Regions from separate parts of the Homo sapiens genome. Here regions 2 and 3 are each linked to region 1. Evidence: fine-mapped expression QTL. A gene starts in region 1. Each other region holds a variant in brackets. All regions are shown on one strand. Distances are from middle to middle.

The links. PIP is the estimated chance that this variant, and not a neighbour inherited with it, causes the effect. A credible set is the group of variants that fine-mapping cannot tell apart.
Region 2: its variant is the best candidate, but not a certain one, in a credible set for the expression of NUDC in fibroblasts (GTEx, PIP 0.64).
Region 3: its variant is the best candidate, but not a certain one, in a credible set for the expression of NUDC in skeletal muscle (GTEx, PIP 0.50).

Annotation. Positions count from the first base shown.
Region 1 is chr1:26,920,162-26,924,345 of GRCh38, forward strand. NUDC (nuclear distribution C, dynein complex regulator) reads left to right here and starts at 1,582. Exons shown (of 9, transcript NM_006600.4): 1 at 1,582-1,768; 2 at 3,928-4,005. The coding sequence starts at 1,688. RefSeq lists a silencer at 1,329-1,478 and enhancers at 1,609-1,728, 1,849-2,390.
Region 2 is chr1:26,780,404-26,784,587 of GRCh38, forward strand. It overlaps ARID1A (AT-rich interaction domain 1A), which reads left to right. Exons shown (of 20, transcript NM_006015.6): 20 at 1-1,701. The coding sequence ends at 353. Among named protein-coding and RNA genes, the nearest start is that of PIGV, 5.5 kb to the right of the region's middle. The variant C/T (reference allele first, on the strand shown) is at 2,548.
Region 3 is chr1:26,894,111-26,898,294 of GRCh38, forward strand. It overlaps GPATCH3 (G-patch domain containing 3), which reads right to left. Exons shown (of 7, transcript NM_022078.3): 2 at 3,191-3,615; 3 at 126-300. Among named protein-coding and RNA genes, the nearest start is that of GPATCH3, 4.3 kb to the right of the region's middle. The variant C/T (reference allele first, on the strand shown) is at 2,405.

The sequences.
Region 1 (4,184 bases):
GTAGCACTGTAACCATATCAGAGCCTTTAAAAAATAGACTAGAACAGGCCGGGCGCAGTGGCTCATGCCTGTAATCCTAGCGCGTTGCGAGGCCGAGGCAGGTGGATCACTTGAGGTCAGGAGTTTGAAACGAGCCTGGCCAACATGGTGAAAACCCCTCTACTAAAAATACAAAAAAAAATTAGTTAGGCGTAGTGGTGCCTGTAATCCCAGCTACTTGGGAGGCTGAGAATCACTTAAACCTGGGAGGCAGAGGTTGCAGTGAGCTGAGATCGTGTCACTGCACTCCAGCCTGGGCAACAGAGTGAGACTTGGTCTAAAAAAAAAAAGAAGAATAGATAGACTAGAATATACTGTAGAGAGATGGGAGGTGAGGGAGTAGAAAAACAAGCAAACAAGTTTGCTGCAAATGAGAGCTGAAAATTGGAGAGGTAGCAGCAGAAGAAAGTGGGGCCATGGAATAATAATATAAAAACAGGGCTGGGCATGGTGGCTCACACCTGTAATCCCAGCACTTTGAGAGGCTGAGGCAGGAGGAGTGCTTGAGACCAGGGTTTGAGACTTAGCCTGGGCAACACAGACTCCATCTCTACCAAAAAACAAAAAACAAAAAACAAAAAAAAAAAAACAGCAGGGCGTGGTGATGTGAGCCTGTAGTCCCAGCTACTCTGGAGGCTGAAGTGGGGAAGATGGCTTGAGTCCAGGAGTTCAAGGCTGCCGTAAGCCAAGATGGTGCCACTGCACTCCAGCTTGGGTGACAATGCAAGAACCCCATCTCTAAAAACAAACAAAAAGATATTAAAGCGTGTTTGTAAATTGAAGGGAAGAAGAAAGATATTTGTGATGCATAAGCTAAAAAAAGGGATAATTAACAGGGATAGAGTTCCTGAAAAGACTAAGATGATGAGATTCATTGCACAAGTGGAGGGATTAGCTTGGATGGCTGGGTCCTGTCCCCGCATTAACAGAAGTGAAGGTCAATTTCAGCACCTGTCATAATTTCCTGGGCCCAGTGCAAAATGAAAATGTGGGTCTCCTTATTCCAAAATTATTAAGAATTTCAAGACTATAACAGAAGGCCATGAAATCAAGCGTGGAGCCTTTCTAAGCCTGGGTGCTGTGCGACTGCAATTTGTACTCCCATGAAGCTGGCCCTAGTCAAGTACGCAGTGAGGTCGATGAGGAGGAGGCTGTCCTGTGGTAAGTCCCTTCTAGGATTGGAAGAGATGAGTAAGGCTACTTTCAGCTTCACTGCTCTACAAGCTGGGGGGGTCGCTAGCAAGGGAGAGGGGCAAAACTTGTCCCTTTTTAACTTCCAACCCTGCCAGATTTGAGTCCAGGGCTTTCTAGAAGTCTCCACGGCATCGGGTGACCATAGCAACTCATGCCAAACTCTCGGGCCCACGGCTCCGCCTACCGCTTCGTGGACGCGCTTGTTGATTGGCTCCGAATGTCGACCAATGGTCGGCGAAGCGGGTTGCTTGCCGCACGGTCAATGGCCGCAAACCGGGAGGAAGGCGGGAAGAGAGGAGGTGGAGGCGGGCCTGGGCAGCCGCGCGCGTGCGTGTTTCCGGCTCCGCTGCGGAAGGCGGACGACTAGAGTCGTTGGGCCCGGCGCGACCCGCAGGAGCGTAGAGAGCGCGGGACTAGAGTGCAGAGCTCCGGGACGTGGATCGGAGCCGGCGCGATGGGCGGAGAGCAGGAGGAGGAGCGGTTCGACGGCATGTTGCTGGCCATGGCTCAGCAGCACGAGGGCGGCGTGCAGGAGGTAACGGCCCGCGCGGCGTCGGCCCACCCGGCGGCCTTGGCCACGCTCCTTCCGCCCTTCTCTGCCTTCGAGGGCTGAGACCCACCCCAGCGGCTCGCGGGCTTCTGGGATGCCCCTACATTCTCACTGCGCCCAGCTTCCGGCCTGGCCACCCGCCAGCAGGTCTCACCCGGTTCGCATCAGTCCCGGGCCCCCGGCGCCCCTCAGTAGTAGCAAATTATCGCATCCCTGAGCTTAGGATCCCCCTTTAGTTTCACATATGCCCCCACCCCCGTTTCCACTTTGATGGCGGCTTCCAAGGAGCATCCCTTAGTAAGAACCGTCGCAAATATCGTGATTTGGATCCACCAAGGCTTGGGGCGAGCCGTCGAATGTGTGTGGTAGGGGAGCGGGCTGATGTTAGCACGTGGTCTTGTTAGGCCTTGAATGGGGGAATAGGAGGCCTGTGTTCACGATTAGTTTCCACCACCTACCAACTTGGAACCTTTACATCTCTCCAAGCCTGAGTTTCCTTATCTGTGAGACAGCTGCGAATACCGGTTTCCAGAGAGTAGTTAAGAACCGTAAGTTCTCAGTAATAAGGCTTTTTCATTCAACAAGTATTTGTCGTGTGATTGATGTGTGTCCCACACTCGACAATAAGGGCCAACTGTTACAGATTCTGGAGTTGGTTTTTTTGGAACAAACACAAAGTTAACGGTAGAAAAGTCTGTCAGGATCAGAACTCTCATTCTCAGAGCCAGAGAAGTGGCAAGGATTTGCCTAGATCATGCAACATGGTTCTCACCTAGACAGGTCAGTGTGCTTCCCAGAGTCCATGGCTGATTGTGTCTTACTGGAGGTAGGTTTCCATTGAACTTTCTATTCCTATGTAACCTAGGTGTCTGGTGACCAAGGACTTCTAAGCCCTTTGTGGTGGGGAGAGTGTTTCTCATTTGCAAGTGTGAAAAGCCTTCCTGTCTCCATTCCTCTAAACTGTTCGCACAAAACTGGATTTGGGAGCGAGTTCATTTTTGAGCAAATTGAAAAACTGTCTAGAAGCAAGAACGGAAACCATTGAGATATGTTCTAGCATCAGATTTAATCAGATTTAGACCCACTCTTGGGCAAATAAAGGGTTTGTGTGTGCTGACCTTGAGTCACCACTAGATTGTTTCATTCAGCAAGAATTTTACTGATTATGTACCTTTAGCCATATCTGGTGCCCAGCATTGCAGGTGGCAGACAGACTAAGCCATGGTTCATGGTTCCTATTTGTAAGGTGTTTACCCTCTGCCAGTGGGTCTCTTGCTCTGTGCCATACATTGCTAAAGGCCTCACCTCCTTGACCTCATGATCCTCACCAGGTCCCTAGAAATAGGTACTGCATCTTATTCCTGTTGTACAGAGTTAAGAAACTTCTGCAAAGTCAAAAGGTAATATATGTCCATCTGATACTCAAACCGTTGGCTACACTTGTACTCCAGCCAGAATTAATCCATCTTATCCTCCTTTGAAGTGGCTTCATTTGCTCTCCTCCTTCTTGCTTTGACCCGGTAACTTAGCCAGTGTCTTTTTTTTTGTTTAGACAAGAGTCTCTCACCCAGGCTGGAGTGCGGTGGCACGATCTTGGCTCACTGCAACCTCTGCTTCCCGGGTTCAAGTGATTCTCTGCCTCAGCCTCCCAAGTAGCTGGGATTACAGGTGCCCACCACCTGTAATCTAGCTAATTTTTGTGTTTTTAGTAGAGACGGGGTTTCACCATGTTGGCCAGGCTGGTCTTGAACTCCTGACCTCAAGTGACCCGCCCACCTGAGCCTCCTGAAGTACTGGGATTATAGGTGTGAGCCAGTGTCTTGATGGGCTTTTTACTTTCTGGAGAGGAAAGCTGGGCCCAGGCTTTTCATGCCCTGGATGCAGAGGAGTGTTCCATACGCTTAGGCTGCTTCTAGCATCACAAGGAAAGTGAAAGGCGCACACACACACAGGATATGAGAAATCTGCTTCATGGTGGAAGTGACTAAGAGAACCTGCTGGGGAGATAATCTCCTCAGTTGGGAAGCTCAGAGGAAAAATAGTCAAGTCCCAAGTTCCCTCCTAGACAAAACAAGTTGACTTGTGTGCAGTTGAAGGGCTCCCAAATGCAGCTCTACTACTTTAATCTTCTCCCCCTCTTTCAGCTTGTGAACACCTTCTTCAGCTTCCTTCGACGCAAAACAGACTTTTTCATTGGAGGAGAAGAAGGGATGGCAGAGAAGGTAAGTGTTGGAAACCACTGTCCTTTGGGCGGCTCTGTCTCTTCAGAAGAAAAGCTCACCTGGCCTTTCTTTGGCATAATAGTAACTTTCAGCAGAAGCGAAATGCCAAAGGTGAGGAATTGGGGAAGGGAAGGAAGCTGTCATTTCTTCAAGCTCCACTCCTTGCTCAGCCCTCTATC
Region 2 (4,184 bases), 140 kb before region 1:
TACTGCTGGCCAACCTGGCTCAGGGGGACAGCCTGGCAGCTCGTGCCATTGCAGTGCAGAAGGGCAGTATCGGCAACCTCCTGGGCTTCCTAGAGGACAGCCTTGCCGCCACACAGTTCCAGCAGAGCCAGGCCAGCCTCCTCCACATGCAGAACCCACCCTTTGAGCCAACTAGTGTGGACATGATGCGGCGGGCTGCCCGCGCGCTGCTTGCCTTGGCCAAGGTGGACGAGAACCACTCAGAGTTTACTCTGTACGAATCACGGCTGTTGGACATCTCGGTATCACCGTTGATGAACTCATTGGTTTCACAAGTCATTTGTGATGTACTGTTTTTGATTGGCCAGTCATGACAGCCGTGGGACACCTCCCCCCCCCGTGTGTGTGTGCGTGTGTGGAGAACTTAGAAACTGACTGTTGCCCTTTATTTATGCAAAACCACCTCAGAATCCAGTTTACCCTGTGCTGTCCAGCTTCTCCCTTGGGAAAAAGTCTCTCCTGTTTCTCTCTCCTCCTTCCACCTCCCCTCCCTCCATCACCTCACGCCTTTCTGTTCCTTGTCCTCACCTTACTCCCCTCAGGACCCTACCCCACCCTCTTTGAAAAGACAAAGCTCTGCCTACATAGAAGACTTTTTTTATTTTAACCAAAGTTACTGTTGTTTACAGTGAGTTTGGGGAAAAAAAATAAAATAAAAATGGCTTTCCCAGTCCTTGCATCAACGGGATGCCACATTTCATAACTGTTTTTAATGGTAAAAAAAAAAAAAAAAAATACAAAAAAAAATTCTGAAGGACAAAAAAGGTGACTGCTGAACTGTGTGTGGTTTATTGTTGTACATTCACAATCTTGCAGGAGCCAAGAAGTTCGCAGTTGTGAACAGACCCTGTTCACTGGAGAGGCCTGTGCAGTAGAGTGTAGACCCTTTCATGTACTGTACTGTACACCTGATACTGTAAACATACTGTAATAATAATGTCTCACATGGAAACAGAAAACGCTGGGTCAGCAGCAAGCTGTAGTTTTTAAAAATGTTTTTAGTTAAACGTTGAGGAGAAAAAAAAAAAAGGCTTTTCCCCCAAAGTATCATGTGTGAACCTACAACACCCTGACCTCTTTCTCTCCTCCTTGATTGTATGAATAACCCTGAGATCACCTCTTAGAACTGGTTTTAACCTTTAGCTGCAGCGGCTACGCTGCCACGTGTGTATATATATGACGTTGTACATTGCACATACCCTTGGATCCCCACAGTTTGGTCCTCCTCCCAGCTACCCCTTTATAGTATGACGAGTTAACAAGTTGGTGACCTGCACAAAGCGAGACACAGCTATTTAATCTCTTGCCAGATATCGCCCCTCTTGGTGCGATGCTGTACAGGTCTCTGTAAAAAGTCCTTGCTGTCTCAGCAGCCAATCAACTTATAGTTTATTTTTTTCTGGGTTTTTGTTTTGTTTTGTTTTCTTTCTAATCGAGGTGTGAAAAAGTTCTAGGTTCAGTTGAAGTTCTGATGAAGAAACACAATTGAGATTTTTTCAGTGATAAAATCTGCATATTTGTATTTCAACAATGTAGCTAAAACTTGATGTAAATTCCTCCTTTTTTTCCTTTTTTGGCTTAATGAATATCATTTATTCAGTATGAAATCTTTATACTATATGTTCCACGTGTTAAGAATAAATGTACATTAAATCTTGGTAAGACTTTTGTGAAGCTTTTTATTGTTTTCAAACTAAAACTTGACCTTTTGTCGGGGGGCAGGGGGATAGTCCTGTTTTTGCAAACCTCCCTTAGTGTGAGATCTCCCCTAAATAGTGGCATTCCTGGACCCTGTCATTTATTTACTATATTCCAAAATAAGACAACCATTTATCTGGAGGCAATCTCCAACTTAATCACTTATAATATCTCTGGACTGGCTCTTTTCCCTGACTCCAGACTAGAGCATTCAGCCACCTTTCTTGTCATCCCTGCTTGGAAGTTTACTTTGAACATGCCAAAGCTAAAATGTCCTGTCTTCCCCCACTAGAAACCTGCTTCTCCCATAGTTTTGGTTTTTTTGTTTGTGTTTTCCTTTTAGTAAATGGCAACTCCATTCTATCACTTGGCTAAAAAAATCCTTGACTTCTTTCACTTCCACATCCAATCTGTTAGCACTCTTCATAAAATAATCCTCAATCCCACACTACTGTAGTTCAAGATACTGTCATATCTTGGATTCTTGAAATACCTCCAAATTGGCCTCCCTGCTTCTGCTTTGCCTGGTTGAACCTATTCTCAACAGAGCAACCAAAAGGACCCCTATAAAAGGTAAGTCAGATCAAACGCCTTCAGTGCTTCTGACTCAGTAAGTAAAAATCCAGACTCTTAAAAAGTGGCCTACAAGGCCCTGAGTTATCTAGCTTACCTCTACCTTTCCTGCACCATCTGTCTTGCCCGTTGCTCACCCCACTGTATAGAGATGTTTCCACCTTGGAGTCTTTGTACTTTATACTCTCTCACCAAATAACTGCATGGCTCAAGTCCTCGACTGCTTCAAGTCTTTGT[C/T]CAAATATATAAGTAAGGCTTTTCATGGTCACCTTACTTAGAATAGCAATCTCTGCCCCCCACTATGTTTCCCTTGTCTGCCTTATTTTTCCTGTGGCACTTGTTACTGTCTGGCCTGTTGTGTGTTGTACTTACCTGTCACCTTCCACTGAAATGTAAACTGAGGGTGGTGGGAGGGGTGTTTTGTTCACTGCTGCATCCTGGTGCTAACACATAGACTGGCACATAGCATCTACTTAAGTAGTAGTTGAATGATACTGTCGATGTTGGCTAGATGCAGTTGCTTTTATGAGGCTAATGTCACAATATATAGTTTCTCTGTTCACCCCCTTCCTTAGGGAAACAATAGAGAAGCCTCAAGTTCCTCAGGAGAAATCAGAAGCAGAAAGAGAAAAAATGCTATCATTGTGGACACTTAGAAGTGAAATTTGAAACAAGAAACAACAGTTTTCTATTGTGTACCTACTTATATTCTGGACATAGCACATCACAATCCTACAACAATCCTGTGCCTGTGAAGTCAGTATGTGGCTCCCATTTTACAGTTGAAGAAAGAGGCTAAGAAAAGTGAAAGGCTTTTTAAGTTCATACACCAAGCAAGTTCCACCTGACTCCAAGGATCATGCTTTTCTTAATATACCACACTACCTCCTTTCTGGATGAGAACCCAACCCAGGAGTAAGGGATCTAGCTGTGGAGCTCAGCAAGCAAGATTTGTTTTTATTGTCTTTAGCACGAGGTAAAATTGTCCTCAGAATTTCAATCAAGTGTTCATCAGACTAAGTGTGGCTGTTAATATTTGGGTCAGGAACAGGATTTGAATAATTAGTATTTCTCAATTGAGAGAGGAAAACCTTTGTCAACCAAGATGCGTTCCTAGGATTCTTCTAGAAAAAGGTAAATGGGAAGCTTTTCATATCTACAATTTTGGTAAGCAATATTGCTAATGGCTATTTTTGTTCTAGGCCTCGAGCTCCGTTTGCTAGTCTAGAAATTGCATATCTGGGCTGTGTGTGGAGCATTACCTAGGAGTTCGGTTTCCTGGGTTCCTTTCATCTGCTCTCCTGCAATGCAGGGAGAGCCTAGCCTGGTCTCCAGTTTCTGACTGGAGTTACCATGGCCAAGAGAACTGCTGGCCAGTGAGCTGTGAGTAATTTGCTTTTGAGAAGTAAATAGAACCTAGCCAGCAGAGAACCCAGGGGTGTGGCCAGTAGTTCTTTTCCCAGGCTCCTCCCTCCCCACCCCCCAAATGACCTTAACCTTCTTTCATAGCTGGAGAGCAGCCAAGTCCAGCCTAAACAATACTCTCAACCTCATTGGCTCTTTTGCCTTGCAGCCACTGCCACCCCCAAGTGGCTAAGGCCTTCCCACTAGGCCTCTCAGTGGGGTCAAGGTTTTCTAACCACTGAAAGGCAAACACTGAAGGAATGGTGAAAAATACCTAGTGACCATGGGCTTTAAATGATGAGTGTTTGGGTACTGCAGTTGGAGGCAAGGCAGAGTCTTTGTCCTTGGGTGGATGGGCATCTTCAAGTGATCGGGCAGAGGCCAAAAAGGATGCTTTTGGTATATGAGACCTGACTGGTGTCACCCCAAGTGTCAGGATGGATGTAAATGTCACCCAGCATCTTGGAAAC
Region 3 (4,184 bases), 26 kb before region 1:
AGAGGTCAGCCTGTTCCCTAGCCTTTTGTTTGGGCTCACCACTACAGAATCTACCGTGTGGAACAGGGAACCCCAAAAGAATGCAGCAGGGGTCACCCCTGCCTTTGCCTGGGTACCAGCATTACCTCCTTCTTCCTCCTGCCAGAACTGGGCATCAGTATAAAACACCAGGCCAGAGCCACCCTTCTCCCACTTGAGCTCAATCTCCTCCTCAAAGAGCTGCTCAGTGGTCCGCTCCTGCCCGGTCACGTCCTCATGCAGCGCTTCATGCCGTTCCCATTCCTCACCCCGGTCATCGTCCTAAAAGGCAGGGAGAGGTGATTTGCCTGAGCTTCCTGACCTCATGCCCCGAGGGAGGGAAGCTCAGGGCACAGGAGGCATGTGTGGCTAGCCTCAGCGCCATTCCTTCAGATTTCTCCAAGAAGCAGCACATATTTGGCCCCTGACCAACACGTCTCCAGCCCGATAATTCTCAACAGTTTGCTCCTGTCCCCACAAGCCTGACTCACCTCTGCGCGTTTGGCCATGTTGTTCCCTGCCTGAAATACCCACTTTCCTCTCCCACACCCTTCTCTTCTCCACTTGATTAAATCCTCCTCATCCCTCAAGTCATACAGCCTACATGAAGCCCCCCACATTTAGGCCCACAGCTCTCATACCAGTCTCTGAACTCCCAATGCTAATCAGTACACACTGGTTAGGCCTTTTTATGTCATATCACAAAGAAAGAATGGACAATAATGCTTATTGTCTCTGGTGTGTCAGGCCCTTCCCATAGCTTAGCTCCTTTAACCACTGCAACAACCCTATGAGATAAGTACCATTATTCCCATTCTACAGATGACAAAACCTAGGTTCAGGGGAGTAAAAAGTTCTTTGTCCAAAAGAGTACACTGAGGGAGCAGCAGAGCCAGCAATGCAAACCCGGGTGGCCACATCCAGGTGCAGCATCTCCAGATGCTGGTTCTTTCTCTTCAGGGAGATTTTAGGCTCTTTGAGGGCAGGAAATGGGTCTTAGAATGCCTTTGGAATCCTACACTAGCCCTTGGCTTGACGGGACTTGTGGAATGATACAATGACTCCTAGCTTGAAACCCTGTAGGCCTTCAAGTGCTGAAGAAAAGTCAGGATGGGGCCAGACGCAGTGGCTCACGCCTGTAATCCCAGCACTTTGGGAGGCCAAGGTGGGAGGATCCCTTGAGCTCAGAGGTTCAAGACCAGTCTAGGCAACAAGTCAAAACCCTATCTCTACAAAAAATACAAAAATTAGCCAAGTGTGGTGATGTGTGAGTGTAGTCCTAGCTACTAGGGAAGCTGAGGTGAGGATGGCTTGAGCCCAGGGAGTTGGAGGTTGCAGTGAGCTGAGATTGCACTACTGCATTCCAGCCAGGACAATAGAACCAGAGCCTGCTTAAAAAAAAAAAAAAAAAAAAAGGAAAGGAAGGAAGGAAGGGGAGAGAAGAGGAGAGGGGAAGTCAGGATGGTACCACACTAGGGATGTGGTCCAGATGTCTTAGCAATCTTGGCTGGGAGCTTTTTTTTTTTTGAGACAGAGTCTCACTCTATCGCCCAGGCTGGAGTGCAGTGGTGCGATCTCAGCTCACTGCAACCTCCACCTCCTGGCTTCAAGTGATTCTCCTGCCTCAGCCTCCCAGTAGCTAGGACTACAGGCACCACGCCTGGCTAATTTTTGTATTTTTAGTAAAGGTGGGGTTTCACCATGTTGGCCAGGCTGGTCTCGAACTCCTGACCTCAAATGATCCACCCATCTTGGCCTCCCAAAGTGCTGGGATTACAGGTGTGAGCCACTGCACCCAGCTGGCTGGAAGCTTTGAAACATGGGTGAATTACTTTTTACCCGGAGTACACATTTTTAAAAAAGTTTTCCCAACAAATCACACCTTACTTGATTTTATGGATGTGCAACCAAGTTTGGAGAAAGGAACCAAAGAAATGTCTATGTCACTAATGAAGTGAGAGTGGAGGCTACTGTTCAATCTGCTGACTCTAGGTCAGAAAATAGAGATGACTGTTCAGCCACATTATGACAGCACGCACAGGTTAGAGAAGAAGCAAGAACTGGGTTCATATCCCAGCTCTACCTCTATTTCCTGAGATGATCTTAGACAAGTCACTGCACATGTTTTGGTCAGCACATTTTCATCTATGAAAATGAACTCTCCTTATCTGGTCTTTCATGTGGAATTTTTTTTTTTTTTCTCAGCTCACTGCAACCTCCGCCTCCTGGGTTCAAGAGCTTCTGTGCCCGGCTGGAAATAATTTTTAAAAAAGAAAAAATGGGCCTGGCGCAGTGGGTCATGCCTGTAATCCCAGCACTTTGGCAGGCCGAGGCAGGTGGGTCACGAGGTCAGGAAATTGAGACTATCCTGGTTAACACGGTGAAA[C/T]CCTGTCTCTACTAAAAATAAAAAAAAAAAAAAAAATTAGCCGGGCGTGGTGGCACATGCCTGAAGTCCCAGCTTACTCGGGAGGCTGAGGCAGGAGAATCACTTAAACCCAGGAGGTGGAGGTTGCAGTGAGCCGAGATCGCACCACTTCACTCCAGCCTGGGTGACACAGTGAGACTCTGTCTCAAAAAAAAAAAGAAAAAAATGAATAAAGAGGAACCATCCTGGCCAGGCGCAGTGGCTCACGCCTATAATCCCAGCACTTTGGGAGACTGAGGCAGGCGGGTCACGAGGTCAGGAGATTGAGACCATCCTGGCTAACACAGTGAAACCCCGTCTCTACTAAAAATACAAAAAATTAGCCGGGTATGGTGGTGGCCGCCTGTAGTCCCAGCTACTTGGGAGGCTGAGGCAGGAGAATGGCGTGAACCCAGGAGGCAGAGCTTGCAGTGAGCCGAGATCGTGCCACTGCACTCCAGCCTGGACAACAGAGCAAGACTCCGTCTCAAAAAAAAAAAAAAAGGAACCATCCTTATATATCCCTTCCAAGGGAATGAAAAATAAGACCCACTTACGAATCTTCTGGTAAAAGCTCTGGACCATCTCCCTACAGAAATACAGAAACACACATGCAAATATAGTTTTACATTCCTTCTTGGACTCCTTGGAACCCTCCTGAGGACCCCAGGTTAAGAACCCTTGTAATAGACAATTGAAGAGTGGTATTATTAATGCCTTCGGCCTCTTTCAGCTGCCAGCAAGGACAGGGTAGCACACTGTACTCACCTCATCTGAGTGAGACTCTTCTTCCTCTTCCTTCCCCACTTCTTCCTCAGGCTCTCCACAGGGGCTGGCTGGTATATCTGCCAGGTAGGTTCCTTGGGGTATTTCTTCACCCTCTGCTGTATACACAAGCTCTTCCTGCTCCACAGTCTCTGAGTCCTCATACTCAAAAGGCACATTGCCGTAGCGCCGGGAGGAACCTGTCTTGGGGAACTGGAGCTGCAGCTGGGTGATGATCCGAGGGGGTAGGCGGCAGGCCCGGATCAACTCCAAAAAGACCCGCAGGGGAGTCCCCACATTCCCTCTGGGCATCAGCACTGGTGGGTTCAGCTCCGGCAGTTGCTTCAGGTCAGCCAGGGTGAAGGCTTCATTCTCTGCCTTCCAACTCTGCAGTTCCTTCCGGGTCTTGAAGGGAAAGGAGCCCAGACCTTGGAAAGGAGGGAGAATAGATCTTGAAACCCAGAAGCCTCCAGCAACACTTGAGCCAGAAATTGGCCAATGTTTAAATCTGTTAGCCTTTCCCTAGTAAACATCTAGTAAATCCCTAGTAAAAATCTAGGCCGACACAGTGGCTCACGCTTGTGATCCCAGCACTTTGGGAGGCTGAGGCAGGAGGATTGCTTGAGCTCAGGAGTTCAAGACCAGCCTGGGCAAAATGGTGAGACCCTTATCTCTACAAAATATAAAAAAATTAGCTGGGAGTGGTGGTGCACCCTGTGATCCCAGCTCCTTGGGAGGCTGAAGCAGGAGGATTGCTTGAGCCTGGGAGGTGAGGCTGTAGTGAGCCAAGATTGCACCACTGCACTTCATCTCGGGCGACAGAGTACCCTGTCTCAAAAATAAATAAATAAATAATAAAATAAATCCATTAGCCTCATGCTGTTCCTCCCTCTCAAACTTCTCCAGGTCTTTTCATCTCTCCCCAAGCGGAACTACAGAACTACCTAGTAGTTTCATGTCACTTCTCATCACCTTGGCTGGGCATACAAGTTTCTTC